Linked DNA regions of Homo sapiens: region 1 is linked to region 2. Evidence: fine-mapped expression QTL. A gene starts in region 2. The other region holds a variant in brackets. All regions are shown on one strand. Distances are from middle to middle.

Evidence for each region.
Region 1: its variant is fine-mapped to the expression of JAK3 in whole blood (INTERVAL, PIP above 0.99).

What each region holds. Positions count from the first base shown.
Region 1 is chr19:17,821,297-17,831,453 of GRCh38, forward strand. JAK3 (Janus kinase 3) reads right to left here. Exons shown (of 24, transcript NM_000215.4): 21 at 9,932-10,104; 22 at 9,207-9,324; 23 at 8,812-8,922; 24 at 3,486-5,614. The coding sequence ends at 5,447. INSL3 (insulin like 3) reads right to left here and starts at 223. Exons shown (of 2, transcript NM_005543.4): 1 at 21-223. The coding sequence starts at 210. RefSeq lists a silencer at 9,737-9,786 and an enhancer at 9,758-10,157. The variant T/C (reference allele first, on the strand shown) is at 6,387.
Region 2 is chr19:17,843,666-17,858,235 of GRCh38, forward strand. JAK3 (Janus kinase 3) reads right to left here and starts at 4,317. Exons shown (of 24, transcript NM_000215.4): 1 at 4,281-4,317; 2 at 569-765; 3 at 112-235. The coding sequence starts at 752.

The DNA.
Region 1 (10,157 bases), 25 kb before region 2:
CCCTGCCCGTCCCCACTCACGGTCGCCTCCGGTCGCAGGCCTCCTGGCTTCGGTGGACCAGCGGGGGCCCCCGCACACGCGCACTAGCGCGCGTACGAAGTGGTGGCCGCACAACTTCTCACGCATCTCTGGGGTGGGCGCGGGGCCCAACGCGAACACCAGGGCAGGGCCCAGCAGCACCAGCGCCCAGGCGGGCAGACGGGGGTCCATGGTGGTGGGTGGCGCCGGGGCCAAGCGGGGACCCCCTTTATAGGCGCCTGGGCCGTCCCAGCTGGGGGCCTTGGAGAAGGGACAGAACATTCTTCAGGACCGCCCAGGAAAAAGGTCAAGGGTGGGGTTAGTGCCAGAGCCTTTCTCCCAGGGCCAGGGCCTTGGATGTACTTCTCCCAGAGGGAGCACTGGGCAACGAGTCTTTCTTTTTTATTTTTTTCTTCTTTTTTTTTGAGATGGAGTCTCACTCTGTCACCCAGGTTGGAGTGCAGTGACTTGATCTCGGCTCACTGCAACTTCTGACACCCGGGTTCAAGCGATTCTCCTGCCTCAGCCTCCTGAGTAGCTGGGATTACAGGTGCGCACCACTATGCCTGGCTAATTTTTTTTTTTTTATTTTTTATTTTTAGTAGAGACTGGGGTTCGCCATGTTGGCCAGGCTGGTCTCCAACTCCTGACCTCAAGCGATCCATCTGCCTCGGCCTCCCAAAATGCTGGGATTACAGGCATGAGCTGTGCCTGGACTATTATTATTTTTATTATTATTATTGAGACAAAGTCTTGCTCTGTCTTCCAGGCTGGAGTGCAGTGATGCGATCTCGGCTCACTGCAACCTCCACCTCCTGGGTTCAAGTGATTCTCCCACCTCAGCCTCCCAAGTAGCTGGGATTACAGGTGTAAGCCACCACGCCCAGCCACCTATTTTTATTTTTTATTTTTGAGATGAGTTCTTGCTCTGTTACCCTGGCTGGAGTGCAGTGGCACGATATGGGCTCACTGCCACCTCCCTATCCCTGACTCAAGCAATTCTCCCACCTCAGCCTCCTGAGTAGCTGGGACTACAGGCCCACGCCACCACACCCGGCTAATTTTTTGTATTTTTTTTGTAGAGATGGGGTTTTGCCATGTTGCCCAGGCTGGTCTCAAACTCCTGGACTCAAGTCATCTTCCCGCCTCAGCCTCCCAAAGTCCTGGGATCACAGGCGAGAGCGACCACACCAGGGTATTTATTCATTTTTGACATAGGATCTCTCTGGGTTGGCCTGTAATGGCAGGATCATAGCTCACTGTAACCTCATTCCCCTGGGCTCAAGCGATCCTTCAGCCTCTGCCTCCTGAGTAGCTGGGACTACAGGCCTGCAATACAATGCCCAGCTAATTTTTAATTTTTTAATTTTTATTTTTATCTTTTTAGACAGAGTCTTACTCTGTCACCCAGGCTGGAGTACAGTGGTGCGATCTCGACTCACTGCAACCTTTGCTTCCTGGGTTCAAGCGATTCTCCTGCCTCAGCCTCCTGAGTAGCTGGGATTACAGGTGCCCACCACCAAGCCTGGCTAATTTTTGTATTTTTTAGCAGAGACGGGGTTTCACCATGTTGGCCAGGCTGATCTCAAACTCCTGACCTCAAGTGATCCACCCGCCTCGGCCTCCCAAAGTGCTGGGATTACAGGCGTGCACCAACGCGCCCGGCCATTTTTAATTTTTTAATTGTAGAGGCAGGGGTCTTGCTATGTTGCCCAGGCTCATCTAGAACTCAAGTGGTTCTCCCTACTCGGCCTTCCAAAATGCTGGGATTACAGGTGTGAGGCACCACACACGGCCAAGTCTTCGCTATTGTCTTAACCAGTTTAAAGAGATGAAATAGATCAACTGAAAAGTAATAATCCTGCCTTTTCTGGGGGGCAGGGGGGAAGACAGCGGGCATCTTCCAAGACCAGAAATGTTCAGAATTTTGTTGTTTCTATTACTGTACAAATGAGAAAACTGAGGCACACAGGCCAGGTGCAGTGGCTCATGCCTGTAATGCAAGCACTTTGGGAAGATGGGGCAGGTGGATCACTTGAGGTCAAGAGTTCGAGACCAGCCTGCCCAATATGGTGAAACTCTGTCTCTACTAAAAATACAAAAATTAGCCAGATGTGGTGGTGCATGCCTATAATCCCAGCTACTCGGGAGGCTGAGGCAGGAGAATCACTTGAACCCAGGAGGTGGAGATTGCAGTGAGCCGAGATGGTGCCGCTGCACACCAGCCTGGGGACAGAGACTCCGTCCCCTCACCAGACAAAAAGAAAGAAAAGAAAAGAAAAAAAGAAAACTGAGGCACAGAGAAAGGACCCCAAACTTGCCCAAGGTCACAGGAGGCTGAGCAGAGCCCAGGTCTTCTCAAGGCGCCTGACACGCAGGGCTGGGGGTGTCCCATCCGAAGCTCTGTCTCCCCAACACGGTTGTCCCCTCTGGGTGAGCAGGGGCTGGTGGACCCAGAATAGAGCAGGATTTATTTGTTCAGTGGATGCTTGGCCCCCGCTTCATGCCTAGGGGGTCTTATAGCTTTGTTTTTCCAAGGAGGGAATCTGAGGTTGAGAGAGGGAAGGATGCTTGACCCTAGGCAGGAGAGAACCTGGGCTGGAACTCGAGTCTTGCTTGACCCCAGAGCAGCTCCCTCCCTATTTCTACCAAATTAGGGGGCCCTCTGGGGCTAAGAGAGCAGGGACAGGGATCTCTCTCTCTCTCTCTCTCTGAGTCTCTCTCGGCCTTCATCTCTCAGTTTCCTTCTGTATGTCTGTCTCTGTCCGCATTTTTCTTTTTTTTGAAACGGAGTCGCTCTGTCGCCCAGGCTGGAGTGCAATGGCATGATCTCAGCTCACTGCAACCTCCACATCCCAGTTTCAAGCAATTCTTCTGTCTCAGCCTCCTGAGTAGCTGGGATTACAGGCATGTGCCAGAACACCAGGCTAATTTTTGTATTTTTAATAGAGACGGTTTCGCCATGTTGGCCAGGCTGATCTCATACTCCTGACCTCAAGTGATCCTCCTGCCTTGGCCTCTTAAAGTGCTGGGATTACAGACGTGAGCCACTGAGCCTGGCCACTCTCCACATCTTTCTAGCAGTTATGAGGTGCACATGACGGGGGCCGGTCGGTGGGGAGGTGGTCCGGCCCCAGTGATGCTGGTCCCCTCCCCACAGCCTCGCTCCCCCAACCTGGCCTTGTCCTCTGACCACCGGGAGAGCATCCTGTTCCTTCCCCACCCACAGAGAGCCTGTAATCAGCTCCCCCAGGCTGCAGCCAAGGCCAGCAGCTGGGGCTGGGAGTGAGGGGGCTCTGTCCTTGAGGGCCCCAGCCAAGCCCCACCCAGTGGTCCTCCTCCACCAGCCTGCCCTGGGGCCCCCACAGTGGCTCCCTGAGAGGTCTCTGGCCCACAGCTCTAACCGCATCCCTCCCAGCTCACACACCCTCTGAGGCTCCCCATCGCCCCAAGTCCAGCACAAAATCTTTTCCACTGAATTCCTTTATTCAGTCAACAAACATTTCCAGAGCCCCCTCTGTACTGAGGCCTCAGCCCAGCCCCCAAGGAACCCTGAGGTCAGGGGAGACAGCTGGACACAGACACTTCCCCAGCCCCAGGGCCAGAGTGGGGCTGGAGGGAAGGACAGGGCTACAGTAGTAGTGGGGGTATATGAGGGAAGGCTGCAAGGATGTGGTAGCTGGAGTTTTGAGAGATGGATAAGAGTTTTCCAAGGAGGCAAAAGTGGCAGAAAAGCTTTGCAGGTGAGGAGGAGCAGCAGAAGCTTAACCTGCATGAGAATCCCTCTCACCAGTCAGAAAGTTGACCCTGCACAGCCAAGGGGTAAGCTCTGACCATTTTGCAGGGGACAGAACTGAGACCCAGAGAGGGAAAGGAACTTGCCCACTGTCACACTGCATGGAAGGGGCAAAACTGTAGGCTCCAATACTTGGGCTCTTAACCTCCTTACTCTGAGCCTTCTCACGCTTGGCATGCTGTTCCCTCTGCCAGGAATGCCTTTCCTTCCCTTGATTGCGTGAAAAGTTCCTGCCAGGTTTGGTGTCATCCCTTTGTGCCCCTTGTAGGGTGAGGACAGAAAGGGTCCCATTGGACAGGTGGGAAAACTGAAGCCCTAGGACACTCAGATACCATTAGGGTGGACTGGGACCCCAGCCTTTCCTGCCCCCTTTCAGGATCCCAAAGAGATACACGGGCTCCCCTAAAAGGCAGAGTCCCAGCCACAGCAACTGCTCTTGTCCTTGGCTTCCTCCAGAGAAACAGAGATCGGGGAGCAGAAGTCAGATCATACATTTAAAGCTACATGAGGGCCGGGCGCAGTGGCTCATGCCTGTAATCCCAGCACTTTGGGAGGCCGAGACGGGCAGATCACGAGGTCAGGAGATGGAAACCATCCTGGCTAACAAGGTGAAACCCCGTCTCTACTAAAAATACAAAAAATTAGCCGGGTGTGGTGGCGGGCGCCTGTAGTCCCAGCTACTTGGGAGGCTGAGGCGAGAGAATGGTGTGAACCCAGGAGGCGGAGCTTGCAGTGAGCCTAGATTGCGCCACTGTACTCCAGCCTGGGCGACAGAGCGAGACTCCGTCTCAAAAAAAAAAAAAAAAAAAAAGCTACATGAATGTCCCCATTGGAAATAAGACAGGAAACTCAAAACTAGGTGCTGTAGTCCCAGCTATTTAGGAGGATAAGGCAGGAGGATCACTGTAGCCCAGGAGTTCAAGACCAGCCTGGGCAACGTAGCAAGATCCTGTCTCTTAAAAATAATAATAATAAATTTAAAAAAAAAAAAGCCTGGGTGCAGTGGCTCATGCCTATTATTCCAACACTTTGGGAGGCTGAGGTGGGAGGATCACTTGAGGTTAGGAGTTCGAGATCAGCCTGGCCATCATGGTGAAACCTCATCTCTATTAAAAATAAAAAAAATTAGCCGGGTGTGGTGGTGCACACCTGTAATCCCAGCTACTCGGGAGGCTGAGGCAGGAGAATCGCTTGAACCTGGGAAGCAGAGGTTGCACTGAGCCGAGATCGCACCACTGCACTCCACCCTGGGTAACAGAGCGAGGCTCTGTCTCAAAAATAAAAATAAAAATAAAAAAAATAAAAAGAGAGAGACAGAAAAGGAAACTCAGGGGGCCAGGGCTTAAGGGGTTGGGAAGATGCGAGAGTCTTAAATTTGGTTCCTTGCTTCTTTGGGCCAGGACTCAGAGAGCCCCACTGACACATATGCCCATCTGTCTTGAACCTTAACAAATTGCAAAGGCCACAGGCTATTCTACAGGCCACGGGAGCCCCCCCAAATGCAATGTCATGGGGGTGTTCCTGAAGTAGAGGACCCTCATAAGGCCTCTGAGGCCCAGAGAGGGGCAGCTCCGGGCCTAAGGTCACACAGCCAGTCAACAGAGACCTAATCCAGAGGTCTGCGGGCAGGAGCTATGAAAAGGACAGGGAGTGGTGTTTGCCCTCTGGGTGAGCAGTGAAGGCATGAGTCTCACACCCCCGGCTTCCGCTCCACAGCATGTCCAGCTGGGGGCCCAGGGCGCTGAATGATGGCCGGTCCTGTGGGCTAGGGGCCCAGCACAGCTTCATGAGCTCGTGAACCTGAGGGGCGGGGGACAGATAATGGGGTCGTGCCTGAGCAGTCCAAAGGACACAACTCCCATTCAGCGTATTTGTTTTTGTTTTTTTGAGACGGAGTCTAGCTCTGTTGTCCAGGCTGGAGTGCAATGGCATGATCTCGGCTCACTGCAACCTCCGCCTCCCGGGTTCAAGCAATTATCCTGCCTCAGCCTCCTGAGTAGCTGGGATTATAGGCACGTGCCACCACGCCTGGCTAATTTTGTATTTTGAGTAGAGACAGGGTTTCACCATGTTGGCCAGGTTGGTCTCAAATTCCTGATCTCAGGTGATCCACCTGTCTTGGCCTCCCAAAGTGCTGGGATTATAGGCATGAGCCACCGCACTCATTCAGTTTTAAAACACAAATTAAATTCCATCCCATCTCTGCTCCAAAAACTCCCATGGCTCCCTATGGATCTTACTTATTTATTTATTTGAGATAAAGTTTCGCTCTTGTTGCCCAGGCTGGAATGCAGTGGTGCGATCTCGGCTCACTGCAAACCCTGCCTCCTGGGTTCAAGCGATTCTCCTGCCTCAGCCTCCCAAGTAGCTGGGATTACATGCACACACCGCCACACCTGGCTAAGTCTGTATTTTTAGTAGAGACGGGGTTTCACCATGTTGGTCAGGCTGGTCTTGAACTCCTGACCTCATGTAATCCACCCACCTCGGCCTCCTAAAGGGCTGGGATTACAGGTGTGAGCCACCGCGCCCAGCCCTTATGGATTTTACAACACACTTCTCCTTTCGAGAC[T/C]ACCCTGACCAACATGGAGAAACCCCATCTTAACTAAAAAAAAAAAAAAAAAAAAAAAAAAAAAAAAAAAAAAAAAATTACAGGTGGCGTGTGCCTGTAATCCCAGCTACTCGGGAGTCTAAGGCAGGAGAATTGCTTGAACCTGGGAGGCGGAAGTTGTGGTGAGCCGAGATTGCGCCATTGCACTCCAGCCTGGCCAACAAGAGCAAAACCACGTCTCAAAAAAAAAAAAACAACAAAAAAACACCACCTCTCCCTGATGCCCTCCTTCGCTCATCTCCATCCCTCCTTCCCTCATTTGTTCCGGGCAGTCACATCTGCCTCCATCGCACTGGTGCTTAAAGGCACCCAGCTCATTACCTCCCCAAGGCCTTTTTCCCTTCCGTGTCCTCCACTGGAAATTTCTTCTCCTAGCTTTACTCATGGGTAGGCTCCTCCTCCTTCCAGCGTCGGCCCCGTAAGAGGCCCTCTTTGACCACCCCCACCCCACCATTTCCCTCTGTTCATCTCTTTCAAGGCACTTATCACTACCATAATTTTGTCTTTGTTTTGTTTTGTTTTGTTTTGTTTTGTTTTGTTTTGTTTTGTTTTGAGACAGGGTGTCACTCTGTTGTCCAGGCTGGAGTGCAGTGGTACAATAATGGCTCACTGCAGCCTTAACCTCCTGGGCTCAAGCAATCCTCCTGCCTCAGCCTCCCTGGTAGCTGAAACCACAGGTGCATGTCACCACACCGGCTATTGCTTGTATTGTTTGTAGAGACAAGGTCTCACTATGTTGCCCAGGCTGGTCTTGAACTCCTGGGTTCCAGTGATCCTCCTGCCTCAGCCTCCCTAGTAGCTGAAACCACAGGTGCATGTCACCACACCGGCTATTGCTTGTATTGTTTGTAGAGACAAGGTCTCACTACGTTGCCCAGGCTGGTCTTGAACTCCTGGGCTCCAGTGATCCTTCTGCCTCAGCCTCCCAAAGTGTTGGGATTATAGGCATGAGCCATCGTGCCCAGCCTAGAATGTTCTTATCAGATTTTGCTAGTTACTGGGAGGACAGGGTCTTCAGCACCCAACAAGTCCTGGCACACAGTTGGCACTCAATAAATGTTTTTGGCCTGAGCAAATTAATTTATCAATGACCAACTGCATGTCAGACACTTCCACAAAGGTTATGATTATATGATTATAAACCATGAGAGGGTGGGATGTGGTGGCTCACGTCTGTAATCCCAGCACTTTGGGAGGCCGAGGCAGGAGGATCACTTGACCCCACGAGCTCAAGACCAGCCTAGGCAACACAGAGAGACCCCATCTCTTTAAAAAAATTTTTTAAAATTAGCCAGGCACAGTGGCTTATGCCTGTAAATCTCAGCACTTTGGGAGGCCAAGGCAGGAGGATCGCTTGAGCCCAGGAGTTCAAGACCAGCCTGGGCAACATAGCGAGACCTTGTCTCTTAAAAAAATTATTTTTATCTTATTTGTTTGTTTATTTATTTATTTATTTATTTTGAGATGGAATCTTGCTCTGTCGCCCAGGCTGGAGTGCAGTGGCATGATCTTGGCTCACTGAAACCTTCCCCTCCCAGGTTCAAGCAATTCTCCTGCCTCAGCCTCGCAAGTAGCTGAGATCACAGGCACCCACACATGGGTAATTTTTGTATTTTTAGTAGAGACAGGGTGTCACCATGTTGGCCAGGCTAGTCTCGAACTCCTGACCTCCGGTGATCTGACCGCCTCAGCCTTCAAAAGTGCTGGGTTTACAGGTGTGAGCCACCACACCTGGCCAAAATTATTTTTAAATTAGCCAGGCATGGTGATGTACACCTATAGTCCCAGCACTTTGGGAGGCTGAGGCAGGAGAATCGCTTGAGCCCACGAGTTCAAGACCAGCCTGGGCAATATAGTGAGGCTCCCATCTCTAAAAAATTATTTTTAAATTAGCCAAGTGTGGTGGTGTACACCTGTAGCTCCTGCTACTAGAGACACTGAACTAGGGGAATCACTTGAGCTCAGGAGTTGGAGGCTGCAGTGAGCTATAATTGCACCCCAGCCTGGGCAACAGAGTGAGCCCCCATCTATAAAAAAGAAAGAAAGAAAGAAAAAAAAAAACCATGAACGTCACCACCATTTATGGAGCATCGACTGTGTGCTCGGCTTTGAGCTGAGCCCTCATAGGCACAGGTGTTCAGGAGTCTAATCTTCCCTCACCCTATAAGGCATTACTATTCTCATTTTGGAAAAGGGTAAACTGAGGCTCTGAAAGTGCTCTGACTTGCCACACAGTGAGAGAGTAGCCAAGTGGGGGCCAGGATCCTCATCGGCCTCACACTCTAGCCTTTCTTCTCAGTACAGAGACTCAGGCGCCAGCTGGCTTGCCCGAGACCCCGGCCCAATCTACAGACTGGGAAACTGAGGCTAGCCCTGCGGCGCTCACCTCAGCAGGGCAGGCAGGAGGCGCCGGCAGCCTCTGGCCCTCCTCCAGCAGTTCCAAGAGGCGGCAGAGGGCGGGGACATCCCGCTCACATCCCATCATCCGCAGGAACTCCTGGAGCCAAGGAGGAGCGCATGTGGTGGGGGAGGAGCCTCCGTGGGTGGAGGGGGAGGGGCCACCCGTGGTGGGGGTAGGGGCCATCTGTGATGGAGCGGGGAGGGGCTGCCTGAACCGTGAAGGGGTCAGAAAGGTGAGGAAGCGTCCTCCCCACTGGGGCCTATGATGCTGGGACCAGGTGACCCCATGCTAAAGAGGGACGCAGGCGCAGACAGGTTGGAGATTGGCCACGAGGGGCGTGGAGGGAGAAGAAGGCTGGGGGCTCTGGGAAGCCGACTCACGGCCGAGGGGCTGCAGCTTTTGTCGCAGTAGGTGAAGAGCTCGTACAGGACGACCCCGAAGCTCCAGACGTCTGACTGGCGAGAGAAGATGTTGTCCGAGAGGGATTCGGGGGCATACCTGGAGAGGGGACAAGGTCTTGAGATGCGAGGGTGTAGAAAGGACAGGAAGAGGGGGGCAGCCTTGGAATGGGGAACTGGTCAGGGTAGGTGGGGACTGTGAGCAGGTCAGTCCCGTCTCCAGGGTCTCGGTTTCCCTGGCTGTGGGATAGGTGGATTCTCCAGCCCTGGGAGGTGCCTGGGAAGAGCTAAGGCTGTGGGGAGGAGGCGGGGGCAGCACGGAGGGGCGGAGATGGGGGCGGGGCCAGAGCCGTGGGAGGGGGAGGGGCCAGAACTGGGCGGGGGGAAGGGCGGAACTAAGAGGGGGCCAGCCCTGAGGGGCGGAGCCAGCGTGTTGGAGGGGTGGGGTTCTGAAGCTTGGGCGGGGCGAGAGCTGAGAGAAGGGCGGGGCTAAGGCTGGGGGCCGCTGACAGCAGGGCAGCGGGAGACAGAGGAGCCAGTGCTGTTGAGGGGGCGGGGCTCTGGGGAGTGGGAGGGGCCAAAGCTGCAGCGGAGGAAGGGCGGGGCTAAGGCTGGGGAGCAAAGCAGCGGGAGGGGGCGGGGGCATGGCTGGGGGCGGAGCCAGAGCCGTGGGGAATAGGGGCGGAGCCTAGGCGCGGGTTCCCCACCAGAAAATGGGGCTCTGGCCTGGCTCGCGGACCACGTAGTAGTCTTTGTCAAGCGGCAGCAGCTTAGCTAGGCCGAAGTCAGCGATCTTGACGTGTGCCTCGCTCTCCACGAGGATGTTTCGGGCGGCCAGGTCGCGGTGCACGCAGCGGCGGGAGCCCAGGTACTCCATGCCCTGCGGGCGGGCGGTGTGAGCGTGCAGAGAGGATCCCAGGATAATCCGGCAGG
Region 2 (14,570 bases):
TCTGAGAAATGGGTAGTGACCATACCTCCCTGGGGCAGGGGTGTGGGCACCTCGAAATGCAAGGAGATGATAAAATTGTACAATCCCTGGGGGCTGGGGGGCACTTCCTACCGAATCCTGTACAGCAGGACTTGGGTGCTGGCATCCTCCACGGAGAAGATGTGGCTCGGGGGGAACCAGCAGGACAGGTCCTCCGTGGCCAGAGCAAAGAGGGAGTGGTACACAGGCAGGATGCCTACAGGGGATGGTCCCATCAGCTCCCTCCTGAGTCACCCCATCTGTGCCCTTCAGGAGTGCCAGCATCATACCCAACCGTCCAGATCCTTCCATACCTCAAGGTATGACCAGCTGTTCCCTTCATGTGCCGTCACACCTCTCCGTCTGCACAGGCCATTCCCTCTGCCTCAGAAGCCAACCCTGCACACCCTTCTCCATTACAAAACTCCTACTCATCCCCCAAAGCCCCAGCTCCGATGCTGACTTCTGCAGGCAACTATTCCAGCTTCCAATCTTGGCCCCACACAGCCCCATCCTTCCCTCTGGCCCGATCCACTAGGGATGCACTCACCGCTGGCCTTGGCAGCCTGCACGCACAGGTCCTCAGCCAAGTGGTCCCCAAAGGAGAAAGATAGGCGCTGGGGGGGCCCGGGGCCCCGAGCGGGCAGCAGCACATGCAGGGCACCAGCCTCCGTGGACAAGAGGCTGCATGAACGCTGAGGGATCAGGGGCGTCTCTTCACTTGGAGGTGCCATGAGTGCAACTTGCCTGGGGCACAGAGAGAAAAAGCCCCTCAGTCCTGGTCAGAGGGGATTGGACTTCTGAGCAGGGAGGGCATGGAAAGGAGTGCTGGAGGCCGGGTGCGGTGGCTTATGCCTGTAATCACAGCATTTTGGGAGGCCGAGGCGGGAGGATCACTTGAGGTCAGGAGTTTGAGACCTGCCTGGCCAACATGGCGAAACCCTGCCTCTAAAAAGTGCAAAACTTAGCCGGGTGTGGTGGTGCGTTCCTGTAATCCCAGCAACTCGGGAGGCTGAGGCAGGACAATCACTTGAACCTGGGAGGCAGAGGTTGCAGTGAGCCAAGATTGTACCACTGCACTCCAGCCTGGACAACAGAGTCAGACTCTGTCTCAAAAAAAAAAAAAAAAAGAAAGAAAGAAAGAAAGAAAGAAGGAAAGCCTCCCTGGGATGGGCCCAGGAGGAAACTGGCCCCCTGCTTCCAGCCCCCAACACCTCCCACCCGCTCGCTCACTTGCCCTGAGAAACCTCAGCACTCAGGGCCCTCAGCTGGGTGGGGCCAGGGGTGGGGCTTCGAGTCCCCTGAGAAAAATTGGGGAGAAAAAGGAGGTCACTCAAATTGACCTGAATGAAGAAGATCTGAAGAAAGTGTTGGGAAAAACAAACAAAAACCTAAGTTCCAGCAGGGCGCAGTGGCTCATGTCTGTAATCCCATCATTTCCGGAGGCCAAGAAGGAAGGATAGCTTGAGACCAGGAGTTTGTTTTATGTTTTTTGCTTTTTTGAGACAGAGTCTCGCGCTGTCACCCAGGCTGGAGTGCAGTGGCGCAATCTCAGCTCACTGCAACCTCCGCCTCCCAAGTTCAAGAGATTCTCGTGCCTCAGCCACCCCAGTAGCTGGGATTACAGGTGGGCACCACCACGCCCAGCTAATTTTCTTGTATTTTTAGTAGAGATGGGGTTTCACTGATCTCAAACTCCTGGCCTCAAGTGATCAGCCTGCCTCAGCCTCCCAAAATGCTGGATTACATGTGTGAGCCACCGCGCCTGGCCGAGACCAGGAGTTTGAAACCAGACTGGGCAATATAGTGAGACCTCCTCTCAAAAAGAAAAAAAAGCCTTGTAATCCCAGCACTTTGACAGGCCGAGGCAGGTGGATCACTTGAGGCTAGGATTTTGAGACCTCATCTCTAAAAAATTAGCAGGGCATGGTGGCACACCCCCATAGTCCTAGCTACTTGGGAGGCTGAGACAGGAGGATGCCTTCAGCTCTGCAAGTTGAGGCTGCATTGAGCTATGATCACACCACTGCACTCCAGCCTGGGCGACAGAGCAAGACCTTATCTCTAGAAAAAAAACACAATACAAAAACTATGATCCAAAATAATGCCCTGTGGCTGGGGTGGGGCGGCATTAATGAGGGTTTTTTTGTTTTTGTTTTGAGACAGAGTCTAGCTCTGTCATCCAGGCTGGAGTGCAGTGGCACAATCTCGGCTTACTCTGCATCCTGGGTTCAAGTGATTCTCCTGCCTCAGCCTCCCAAGTAGCTGGGATTACAGGGGCACGCCACCATGCCCGGCTAATTTTTGTATTTTTGGTAGAGACGGGGTTTCACCATGTTGGCGAGGCTGGTCTGGAACTCCTGACCTCGAGTGATCCTCCTGCCTCGGACTCCCAAAGTGCTGGGATTACCGGCGTGAGAAACTGCGCCTGGCCTAATGAGGTTTAAGACAATCAGAGGACTAGGACCCCTAGGACTCAGCTTTCGCAGCTGTGAAATGGGCTGACTCCCCAGCATCCTCATTGAGGTGGTCTGCTGAGCGCAATCCAGGCCTAAAGTGTCAACTCAATTAATGTGCATTAATTTGTATATTTCTTGATGATGTGCCGGTAAGCGATCAACAAACGCCTGTTAAACCAAACAGGAAGGGCAATTGGCACAGCGGTGTGGTGGTTACTGTGGGAAGGGAAGTCTTGTGGGGGAAAGAACCTTACCAAAGGGACACTTTGATGTCACCGATGCCCAGACCAAGAATGAGCACATTCCTAGTCCCGGGAACCTTGGAGGAGCCCCATCTCTCCCACAGAGAGATTGATGTCTAGTTTTGCCCTTTATAGAAATAAAATCACACACCATAGCCTCTCTATCGTCCCCTCAACATCAGCCAATCAAGTTTTTTGGTTTGTTTGTTTGTTTTTTTGAGACGGAGTCTCGCACTGTCACCCAGGCTGGAGTGCAGTCGCACGATCTTGGCTCACTGTAGCCTCTGCCTCCTGGGTTCAAGCGATTCTCATGCCTCAGCTTCCCAAGTGGCTGGGATTACAGGCGCGCACCACAGCGCCCAGCTAATTTTTGTATTTTTAGTAGAGACGGAGTTTCACCATGTTGGCCAGGCTGGTCTCAAACTCCTGGCCTCAGGTGATTCGCCTGCCTTGGCCTCCCAAAGTGCTGTGATTACACACGTGAGCCACATTGCCCAGCCTTTTTATTTATTTATTTATTTTGTAGGGGGGAGGACGGATTCTTGTTCTGTCTCCCAGGCTGGAGTGCAGTGGCATGATCTCGGCTCACTGCAAACTCCACCTCCCAGGTTCAAGCGATTCTCCTGCCTCAGCCTCCTGAGTAGCTGGAATTACAGGCACCCGCCACCAAACCTGGCTAATTTTTGTGTTTTTAGTAGAGATAGGGTTTCACCATGTTGACCAGGCTGATCTCGAACTCCTGACCTCCAGTGATCCGCTGGCCTCAGCCTCCCAAAGTGTTGGGATTAAAGGCATGAGCCACTGTGCCCAGCCCCAGTCGAGTTTAAAATAAGGCTTCAGTGGCAGTGGCGCCCCACTGCAATCCCAGCTACTCAGGGGGCTGAGGCAGCAGGATAGCTTGAGGCCAGGGGTTAGAGACCTGCCTGAACAACATAGCAAGACTCCCATCTCCAAAACAACAAAAAAATCTTAACAGAATATTATTATTCTGTAATACTGTAACAAAAAAAAATGAAAAGTCAGAGGTGATGTTTGGTCCCAGAAAACGCCATAGTTTTTTTGGTTTTTTAAAAATGTTTGTAGAAATGGAGGTCTGGCTATGTTGCCCAGGCTGGCCTTGAACTCCTGGCCTCAAGCTATCCTCCCGCCTCGGCATCCCCTGTTTATAATCCTCAACGTTCTGCATCCTGGTATGGTCGGGTACCCTGTGTCTGGACCGGGAAGGCCTGGAGGGTAGGGGCTGGGAACTCCGCCCCCCAATCCCTCCTTCCCAATCCCTCCTCCCCACCCCCAACCCCGCAGCCCCCGTCGCGCATGCGCAATGACTCCTCCAGGTCCGCAAGGCAGGCATCTCCCGGCCTTAGTCAAAGCCGAAGCCCAGAGAAGCGAGCGATCGGAGGATGCGAGTCTCGGCTCACGTCTGCCTCGCAGCTTTCCTCCGAGGCCTGGAAGGCGAGCTAGCCTTTGCCCTGGCAGCACCCTGCCCCAGCCCAGCCATCCCCCGCCACCACCATCCTCCCCCAGTGTCTGGGCCGAGCCCTGCGGCATCGCCAGCTCTTACCTAGCGGGCAGGGACCCTGGACTTTCGAAGGGCGGGCAGAGCCGGGAGGCAGCGAGAGGAAAGTCCCACTCGGCTCCTTCCTGTGTGGGCCCCTTGGTTTCCTGAGCCACTGTCATTTACCGAAAGTCAGGGCCCTGCGGGAGCTGGGGGCGGGGAGGCGGGCAAGGAGGGGCAGAAAGTTCCGGAAGCCTCTGCATCAGCCGCCCCGTTCAGACAGGCTGCTGGAGACCCCTAAGCCAAAGGAACTGATGATAGCACAGAGAAGGGTCTGGGTCACACCAGGGGCTCAGCCGACTCTAGACCCACTTGTTAAGTGGGGCTCTGGCCCGGCCCTTATTGCCTCAGTTTACCCATCTGTAGCATGTGTGAGTTGGGCACCCAGTGGAACTAATTTTGCACCCAGGGAAGGAAACCTGGCTGGATTTGCCCAGGAGGGAAGCAGGGAAGTTGCCCCAGAGGAAGGTCAAGTTCTTCTTTGAGGTATTTCTCCCTTAAGACTCAGGGAGACGCTGGGCGCAGTGGCTCACGCCTGTCATCCCAGCACTTTGGGAGACTGAGGCGGGCGATTACTTGAGGTCAGGAGTTTGAGACCAGCCTAGCCAACATGGCGAAACTCCGTCTCTACTAAAAATACAAAAATTAGCCAGGCGTGGTGGCCTGTAATCGCAGCACTTTGGGAGGCTGAGGCGGGCGGATCACTTGAAGTCAGGAGTTTGAGACCAGCCTGGCCAACATGATGAAACCCTGTCTCTACTAAAAACAGGAAAATTAGCCAGGCCTGGTGATGCCTGTAATCCTAGCTACTCAGGAGGCTGAGGTGGGAGGATTGCTTGAATCTAGGAGGCGGATGTTACAGTGAGACGAGATGGCGCCACTGCACTCCAGCCTGGCAACAGAGCGGGACTTCGTTTAAAAAAAAAAGAAAAGACTCAGGGAGAGATAATGACCCATTTCTGCCTGTGGTGCCCTGGGCCCAGCCCTAAAAAACCAGGTGGATCCGGCCTGGCCTCTTGGAACTTGTGATCTGGCGCTGAGACAATGAGCAAATGAAGGAGCCAAATCATCGCAGACAACAAAGAAAGCCAGGGTGTCAGGACAGGCACAGACTGGAACTTGGACCCGAGGCAGGACAGGGAGCTGGCCAGGGAAAGGGTGCTCCAGGAGGAGGGCACAGGATGGGCAAAGACCTTGAGAGGGCAGTGATCTTAGCAGCTTGAAGAGCAGTCAGGAGGCCAGGGGCAGGGGTGAGATGAGGGGGAAGGGGACTGCAGGGCGGTCAACAGGGGCAAGATCGTGGGGGGACAGGGGGATCAGGGTCTTTGGGAGAAGGGTGGGTTTTGCCTGGAGCATAATCTGGAGCCACAGGAGAGTTGGAAGTAGGAGCTGTTATAAATAGAAGAGGCAGAAGGCCCGGGCAGCATCCAAATGCAGAGACTTGGGCCAGTGTTCTTAGGATAATAGGATCAGAGCCCCGGAAGTAGAGCTTCAGGAATAGACTGACGAAGTGGTGACCGGGTACAGTGGCTCACATCTGTAATTCCAGCACTTTGGAAGGCCCAGGTGGGAAGATTGCTTGAGCCTAGGAGTTCGAGACCAGCCTGGCCAACATGGTGAAACCCCATCTCTACTAAAAATATAAAAATTAGCTGGGCGTGGTGGCATGTGCCTGTAATCCCAGCTACTTGGGAGGCTGAGGCAGGAGAATCACTGGAACCCAGGAGGCAGGCGGAGGTTGTAGTGAGCTGAGATTGTGCCACCGCACTCCAGCCTGGGCGACGGAGCAATACTCTGTCTCAAAAAAAAAAAAAGGAATAGATTTAAGAAGTTGTGGCCAAGAACAGTGGCTCACACCTGTAATCTCAGCACTTTGGGAGGCTCAGGCAGGAGGATGGCTTGAGCCCAGGTGTTCGAGACCAGCCTGGGCAACATGGTGAAACCCTGTCTCTACAAAAAATACAACAACAACAAAATAATAAGCTGGATGTGGTGGCATGTGCCTGTAGTCCCAGCTACTAGGGGAGGCTGAGGTGGGAGGATCACCTGAGCCCAGGAAGTTGAGGCTGCAGTTAGCTGTGGTCATGCCACTGCACTCCAGCCTGGGCAATGGGAGTGAGATCCCGTCTCAAAAAAAAAAAAAAAAAGACTTTTCATCTCTGTATCACCATCACAAGTCTTAACACAAAATGGTTTGGTAAGTATTTTGTTGATCTTAACTGTTCAATCAGCCAGAGGCTTATTGGACACAGCCTGTGTGCAGGGAATCGGGGACAATGCAGACCCAATCCCTGTCCAGGGGAGCTGACAGTCCAGCAGGGGAGATGGCAATAAACAAGCTATTGCCCAATAATTATATCAGTTGCCCCTGGGACCGGTCTGCTAAGAGAGATGACTGGATCTGGGAGGGCTTCCTGGAGGAGGTGGCTTTGATTCTGAAATCCAACAACAAGTGGGACTAGCCAGAGAGTGACCTGAGAATGTGGGAGTGTGGGCAGTTCTGGCAGGCAGAACAGCCCAGGCAAAGGCCTGGAGGCTTCACGAATTCACAGTGTTCCTGAGAAGAGCAGGATGTCAGGGACACGGGGGGCTGAGACTCATTTGATGGCGTGGGTAGGGCCGCGTGGGTCAAGGGAAAGAGATATAGATTATGTCCTCAGCTTAGTGGAGCTTAGTGGAGCCACAGCTGACCTGCGGCAGGAAGTGCCAAGCAGAAGCTTAGTTGTAGTGTTTTCTTTCACTTCCTGGGTGGCTTCAGCAGACGGGAATGCAACCTTATGTTCTCATCCTTGGCCTGAGGCTGAAGCCTCTGCTTTCCGGAAGTACAGTGAGTTTCTGGGTCTCTGCTACCTCCAGTGTGATGGTTTCTGCAATATTTTGAGAATAAGTAAGAGGAGATTGGGGTGAGGACCAAAGTGGTACCTTCAGCCCCAGAGAAGGGCATGTGAAGGCTCTAAAAGGAAGTTCTGGCCGGGCGCGGTGGCTCACGCCTATAATCCCAGCACTTTGGGAGGCCGAGGCGGGCGGATCGCCTGAGGTTAGGAGTTCGAGACCGGCCTTGCCAACCTGGTGAAACCCCATCTCTACTAAAAATACAAAACGCAGCTGGGTGTGGTGGCGGGCGCCTGCAGTCCCAGCTACTCAGGAGGCTGAGGCAAGAGAATCACTTGAACCTGGGAGGCGGAGGTTGCAGTGAGCCGAGATCGCACAACTGCACTCCAGCCTGGGCGACACAGCAAGACTCCGTATCAAAAAATAAATAAATAAATAAATAATTTTTTTTAAAAAAAGGAAGTTCTGGGGACAGAACCCAGAACTTGCCCGAGAAAAATGGGGCACGTCAGTGATGCAAACACCCAGATTTTTCTGCTGACAAGAAGTCCATAAATACAATCAAAGAATAAAATACAATCAAAGTGTAACTGGAAACAAAATTGAACTCATGGATAAAATATCCTCGTTATATAAGTAACATCTAGAAAGCAGTAAGAAAATGCCAACCAGTTAGGTGGATATGAATCCAGAAGTCAGAGAAAATGGAGGACAAATAGCTCTTAAACCCAGAAAAATTTCCTCAGCTTCACTTGCCAAATGAAAATTAAGAGTACAGTGAGGCAGGGCCAGGCACGGTGGCTCATGCCTGTAATCTGAGCACTTTGGGAAGTCAACATGGGAGGATCATTTGAGCTCAGGAGTTGGAGATTAGCCTGGGCAACATGGTGAGATCCGTCTCTACAAAACATACAAAAATTAGCCAGGCATGGTGGTGTGCACCTGTAGTCTCAGCTACTTGGAAGACTGAAGTGGGAGGATGGCTTGAGTCCAGGAGGCAGAGGTTGCAGGGAGCCAAGATAGTGCCACTGTACTCCAGCCTGGGCGACAGAGCGAGACTACATCTCAAAAACAAAAACAAAAATGGTAAAAGACTGAATAACTTCCTCCTGAGATTGGAAACAAGACAAGGATGTCCATTTTCACCACCTCTATTCAACATTGTTCTGGTGATGTTAGCCACTGTAATAAGAAAAGAAAAAGCAGGCTGAGGCAGGAGAATGGTGTGAACCAGGGAGGCGGAGCTTGCAGTGAGCCAAGATCGGGCCACTGCACTCCAGCCTGGGTGACAGAGTGAGACTCCGTCTAAAAAAAAAAAAAAAGAAAGAAAGAAAAGAAAAGCTGGGCATGGTGGCTCACGCCTGTAATCCCAGCACTTTGGGAGGCTGAGGTGGGAGAATCACAAGGTCAGGAGTTCAAGACCAGCCTGATCAACATGGTGAAACCCCATCTCTACTAAAAATACAAAAATTAGCCAGGCATGGTAAAAATACAAAAATTAGCCGTGCGTGGTGATGCGCGCCTGTAATCCCAGCTACTCAGGAGGCTGAGGCAGGAGAATCGCTTGAACCCGGGAGGTGAAGGTTGCAGTGAGCCAAGATCGCGCCACTGCACTCCAGCCTAGGTGACAGAGGGAGACTCTGTCTCAAAAAAAAAAAAAAAATTAAAAATTGGCAGGGTGTGATAGCTCACACCTGTTGTCCCAGCTATTTGGGAGGCTGAGGATTGCTTGAGTCAGGGAGGACAAGGCTGCAGTAAGCCATCATCACACCATTACACTCCAGTCTGGGCAACAGAGCGAGATCCTGTCTTAAAACAAAAAAATATATGAGAAAAATAAACAAGTCAGGTGTGGCTGGGCATGGTGATACATGCTTGTAGCCTCAGCTACTGGAGAAGCTGAAATGGGAGCCCAAGAATTTAAAGGCAACATAGCAAGATTCTGTAACAAGCAAAACAGAATAAAATAAGTAATAAAAAAAAGGTAAATAAAACTGTTGCTATTTGCTGATGATATGATTGTTTATGTCAAAAACCCAAGGGAATCTATAAGACAACTACTGAAATTAATACATAAATTCAGCAAGTTACCAGGTTTAAAAAGTCCGTTGAATTCAATACAAAAGTCAATTGAATTTTTATACACCAGCAGCAAACAATTGGAACATAAAAAAATTTTGAAAAATTTCCTTTGCAGCAGCACTGAAAAAGATAAAATACTGTGATGGTCTGAGAGTTTGCGTCTCCCCAAAATTAATACATTGAAATCCTAACCTCGAAGGCGGTGGTATTCAGAATCGGAACCTTTTAAGAGGTGATTAGATCATGAGGGTTGAGCTCTCATGAATGGGATTAATGCCCTTATAAAAGAGGCCCCTAGGCTGGGCATGGTAGCTCACGCCTGTAATCCCAGCACCCTGGGAGAATTGCAGGCTGGTCTCTGACAAACAACTTGTGTTTGAGACCAGCCTGGGCAATGTGGCGAAACACCACCTCTACCAAAAAAAACACAAAAATTAGCTGGGCATGGTGGTGCACACCTGTAGTCCCAGGTCAGGAGTTTGAGGCCAGCCTGATCAACGTGGAGAAACCCCATCTCCACTGACAAAACAAAATTAGCTGGATGTGGTGGTGCATGCCTGTAATTCCAGCTACTTGGGAGGCTGAGGTGGGAGAATCGCTTGAACCCAGGAGGTGGAGGCTGCGGTAAGCCGAGATCACACCATTGCACTCCAGCCTAGGCAACAAGAGCAAAACTCTGTCTCAAAAAAAAAAAAAAAAAAAAAAAAGGCCGGGTGCAGTGGCTCATGCCTGTAATCTTAGCACTTCGGGAGGCCAAGGTGGGTGGATCACCTCAGGTCAGGAGTTCAAGACCAGCCTGGCCAACATGGTAAAACCCCGTCTCTGCTAAAAATACAAAAATTAGCTGGGTGTGGTGGCGCACGCCTGTAATCTCAGCTACTCTGGAGGCTGAGGAAGGAGAATCGCTTGAACTCGGGAGGTGGAGGTTGCAGTGAGCTGAGATCGCGCCACTGCATTGCACTCAAGGTTGCGTGACAGGAAAGAGGCTACATCTCAAAAAAAAAAAAAAAAAAAAAAGAAGGCCAGGGACCTGGAGTCCGGAGTGCATACAAGTGGGTGGCTTTGCAGTGTTTTGAGGACCAACGGTCAGAAACCAAGATTTGGGTGTCTTGGGCCCAGCCTTGGGAAGGCACTGGTGCCAGTAACTGAGATGAGGGAAAGAGTGGGAAGGATGAGGCACATCAGCATTGTGAACGCTCCGTGATCCAAGCTGTGGCTTGGCCCAGGATCCTGGATGAACAAACTGGTGCCTTCAAAGTCCCTGGGAAAAAGACAGGGGGGACAGGGGTGCCCTTGGACAGCCCTGCTAACCAGGAACTCCTCGCCTGGGCCCCACTGGATGGTGATAACAGAGACACAGAGTAGCCCAGGACCAGCCTGCTCAGGTCAGATTCCTGCATGGCCCGAGGTGGGGGCAGAGGAATCCTGCCAGGCCAGGTGTGTCACTAGGAAGCCGGGGCCACGGCATCACTCAGGCACCGACAACATGTAAAAGAAAGAAAAATAATAAAGCTTTTTTTTTTCTTTTAAATTAAGACAGTTTCACTCTGTTGCCCAGGCTGGAGTGCAGCGGCATGATCTTGGTTCACTGCAACCTCTGCCTCTAGGGTTCAAGTGATTCTCGTGCCTCAGCCTCCCGAGTAGCTGGGATTACAGGTGTGTGTCACTGCACCCAGCTAATTTTTGTATTTTTGGTAGAGACGGGGTTTCACCATGTTGGCCAGGCTGGTCTCGACTCCTGACCTCAAGTGACCTGCCCGCTTCAGCCTCCCAAAGTGCTGGGGTTACAGATATGAGCCACTGTGCCCAACCAAAAAGAAAAATAATAAAGCTCTGGGCCGGGCGCGGTGGCTCACGCCTGTAATCCCAGCATTTTGGGAGGCTGAGGTGGGTGGATTATCTGAGGTCAGGAGTTCAAGACCAGCCTGTCCAACATGGTGAAACCCCGTCTCTACTAAAATTACAAAAATTAGCCGGGCGTGGAGGCAGATGCCTGTAATCCCAGCTACTCAGGAGGCTGAGGCAGGAGAGGATGGCTTGAACCCAGGAGGCAGAGGCTGCAGTGAGCTGAGATTGTGCCACTGCATTCCAGCCTTGGCAATGGAGTGAGACTCCGTCTCAAAAAAAAAAAAAAAAAGGAAACAAGAAACCCTGTCTCTACAAAAATTAGCCAGGCATGATGATGGGTGCCTGTAATCCCAGCTACTCTGGAGGGTGAGGCAGGAGAATCGCTTGAACCTGGGAGGCAGAGGCTACGGTGAGATGAGATCACGCCATTGCATTCCAGCCTGGGGAACAGAGTGAGACTCCATCTCAAAAAAAAAAAGAAACTAAAGAAAAATAATAAAGCTTTGAAACAAACAGCACATCACGACCCGTGCCCTTCCCCACCCTGGCATGCCCCTCCCTCCACTCCAACCCAGGCCTTGAAGGCAGAAGCACGAGGCCCCAAGGCCAGGGCTGGGTCTCAGGGATCTCCCTCTCGTCTTCTTCCTCCTCCCCTGTCCTCCCTAAATTCCTTTTCCTGCCCCGTTCCTGCTGTCCCAGGATCCAATTTGTGCTCCAGGCTGCGCTCTGCCCTTTCCAGCATCTCTTTCCACCTGCTTGTAGCCGCTCAGCACTTTGGGGAAACTGAGGCCAGAGCGGTGAGTTCCAGCACAGAGGGAAGGGCAGGGCCTCAACCTTCCCAGTCCAAACAATCATACGCCATTTAAATCTCACAACAACCCTAAAAGCTGGCGACTATTATTGGCCTCATTTTGTGGAAGGGGAAACTGAGGCCCAGAGCGGCAACGCGGCCAGCGAACCATCGGTAAGATTTGAACCTGGTTGTGTATCATTCAACGGTCTAGCGCTTGGCCTCAGCTGGGCCACCGCAGATGGGACATGGTTCTGCTGCCACCTGGTGGACACTCGCGGCAGCGCTGTTGGGATAGAGCCGCCTCTCACCTGACGTCCTGCCCCGAAAAGCCCAGCCAGAGGAGGGCTGACCTGCTCCCCTGGCCTCCCTGCCCCGCATCACGCCCATCAGTTTTCCGAATTTTCACAGTCTAAGTGTCCACCAGGAAGGGACTGGGTAACTAACCACCTGTGCTACAGTTGGGCTAAAGATTTTAGTGCAAAAGTTAATTTGCCCACCTCACAAGAAATACTAAAAAAATGTATATTTTTTCGAGACAGAGTCTCACTCTGTTGCCCAGGCTGGAGTACAGTGGCACAATCTCGGCTCACTGCAACCTCCGACTCCCAGGCTCAAGCGATTCTCATGCCTCAGCCTCTCAAGTAGCTGGGACTACAGGCACCCGCCACAATACCCAGCTAATTTTTGTATTTTTTAATAGAAGCGGGGTTTCACCATGTTGGCCAGGCTGGTCTCGAGCTCCTGACCTCAGGTGATCCACCCACCTGGGCCTCGCAAGGTGCTGGGATTACAGGCGAGAGCCACCGTACCCACCCAAAATAAATTCTTTAGGCTGAAAACAAGGGACCCCAGACATGTATTCCAATCCACGTGAAAATCTGAAGAACACATATAAAGGTAATGTATGTAATTTTAAAAGATTGCATAAGGCCGGGTGCTTTGGCTCACGCCTGTAATCCCAACACTTCAGGAGGCTGAGGTGGGCAGATCAATTGAGCCTAGGAGTTCAAGACCAGCCTGGGCAACACAGAGAGACCTTGTCTCTACAAAAAATACAAAACTTGGCCGGGCACGGTGGCTCACACCTGTAATCCCAGCACTTTGGGAGGCCGAGGCGGGTGGATCACGAGGTCAGGAGTTTAAGGAAAAAAATATAAAACTTAGCTGGGTTTCATGGCATCCGTCCTAACTACTCGGGAGGTCTGAGGTGGGAGAATCTCTTGAACCTGGGAGTTCGAGGCTGCAGTGAACAGAGATCTCGCCACTGCACTCCAGCCTGGGCAACAGAGTGAGATCCTGTATCAAAAAAATAAGGCTGGGCACAATGGCTCACGCCCATGATCCCAGCACTTTGGGAGGCCGAGGCAGGCAGATCACGAGGTCAGGAGATTGAGACCATCGTGGCTAACATGGTGAAACCCCATCTCTACTAAAAATACAAAAAATTAGCCGGGCATGGTGGCGGGCACCTGTAGTCCCAGCTACTCGAGGGGGCTGAGGCAGGAGAATGGCATGAACCCGGGAGGCGGAGATTGCAGTGAACTGAGATCACGCCACTGCACTCCAGCCTGGGTGACAGAGTGAGACTCCGTCTCAAAAAATAATAATAATAAATAAATAAAAATAAGATCTGCCAGTGACAGTGGCTCATGCCTGTTATCCCAGCATGTTCGGAGGCCATGACGGGCAGACCACTTGAGGTCAGGAGTTCAAGACCAGCCATAGCCAACATGGCGAAACTCTTGTCTCTACTAAAAATTAAAAAAAAAATTAGCCAGGCATGGTGCCGCACATCTGCAATTTCAGCTACTTGGGAGGCTGAGGCAGGAGAATCATTTGAACCTGGGAGGCAGAGGTTGCAATGAGCCAAGATTGCACCACTGCCCTCCAGCCTGGGTAATGGAGTGAGACCCTGTCTCAAAATAAATAAATAAAAATAAAATGTAGCATAAATGCAAATTTCTTCTCTCTTTGCCTCTTAACATATTTAAAAAGCAATTGTACAAAACTATATATTGGCCGGGCCCGGTGGCTCATGCCTGCAATCCCAGCACTTTGGGAGGCTGAGGTGGGCATATCACCTGAGGTTGGGAGTTCGAGACCAGTCTGGCCAACATGGTGAAACCCCCTCTCTACTAAAAATACAAAACATTAGCCGGGTGTGGTGGTGCACGCCTGTAATCTCAGCTACTCAGGAGGCTGAAGCAGGAGAATTGCTCGAACCTGGGAGGTGGAGGTTGCAGTGAGCCGAGATCATGCCACTGCAATCTAGCCTGGGTGACAGAGCGAGACTCTGTCTCAAAAAAACAAAAAACAAACAAAAAAACAGGCTGGGTGCGGTGGCTCATGCCTGTAATCCCAGCACTTTGGGAGGCCGAGGCGGGTGGGTCACCTGAGGTCAGGAATCTGAGACCAGCCTGGCCAACCCAGTAAAACCCTATCTCTACTAAAAATACAAAAAATTAGCCAGGCGTGGTGGTGCACGCCTGTAGTCCCAGTTACTCGGGAGGCTGAGGCAGGAGAATCGCTTGAACCTGGGAGGCAGAGGTTGCAGTGAGCTGAGATCACGCTGCTGCACTCCAGCCTGGGCGACAGAGCTAAACTCCATCTCAAAACAACAACAACAACAACAACAAACTATATATTAATTGTATTGTTGGGTCTACAATATAGAGAAAGGTAACATATTTGACATTAACGGCACAAAGGAGGTGAAGGGAGCCAAGTTGTACTGGAATAAG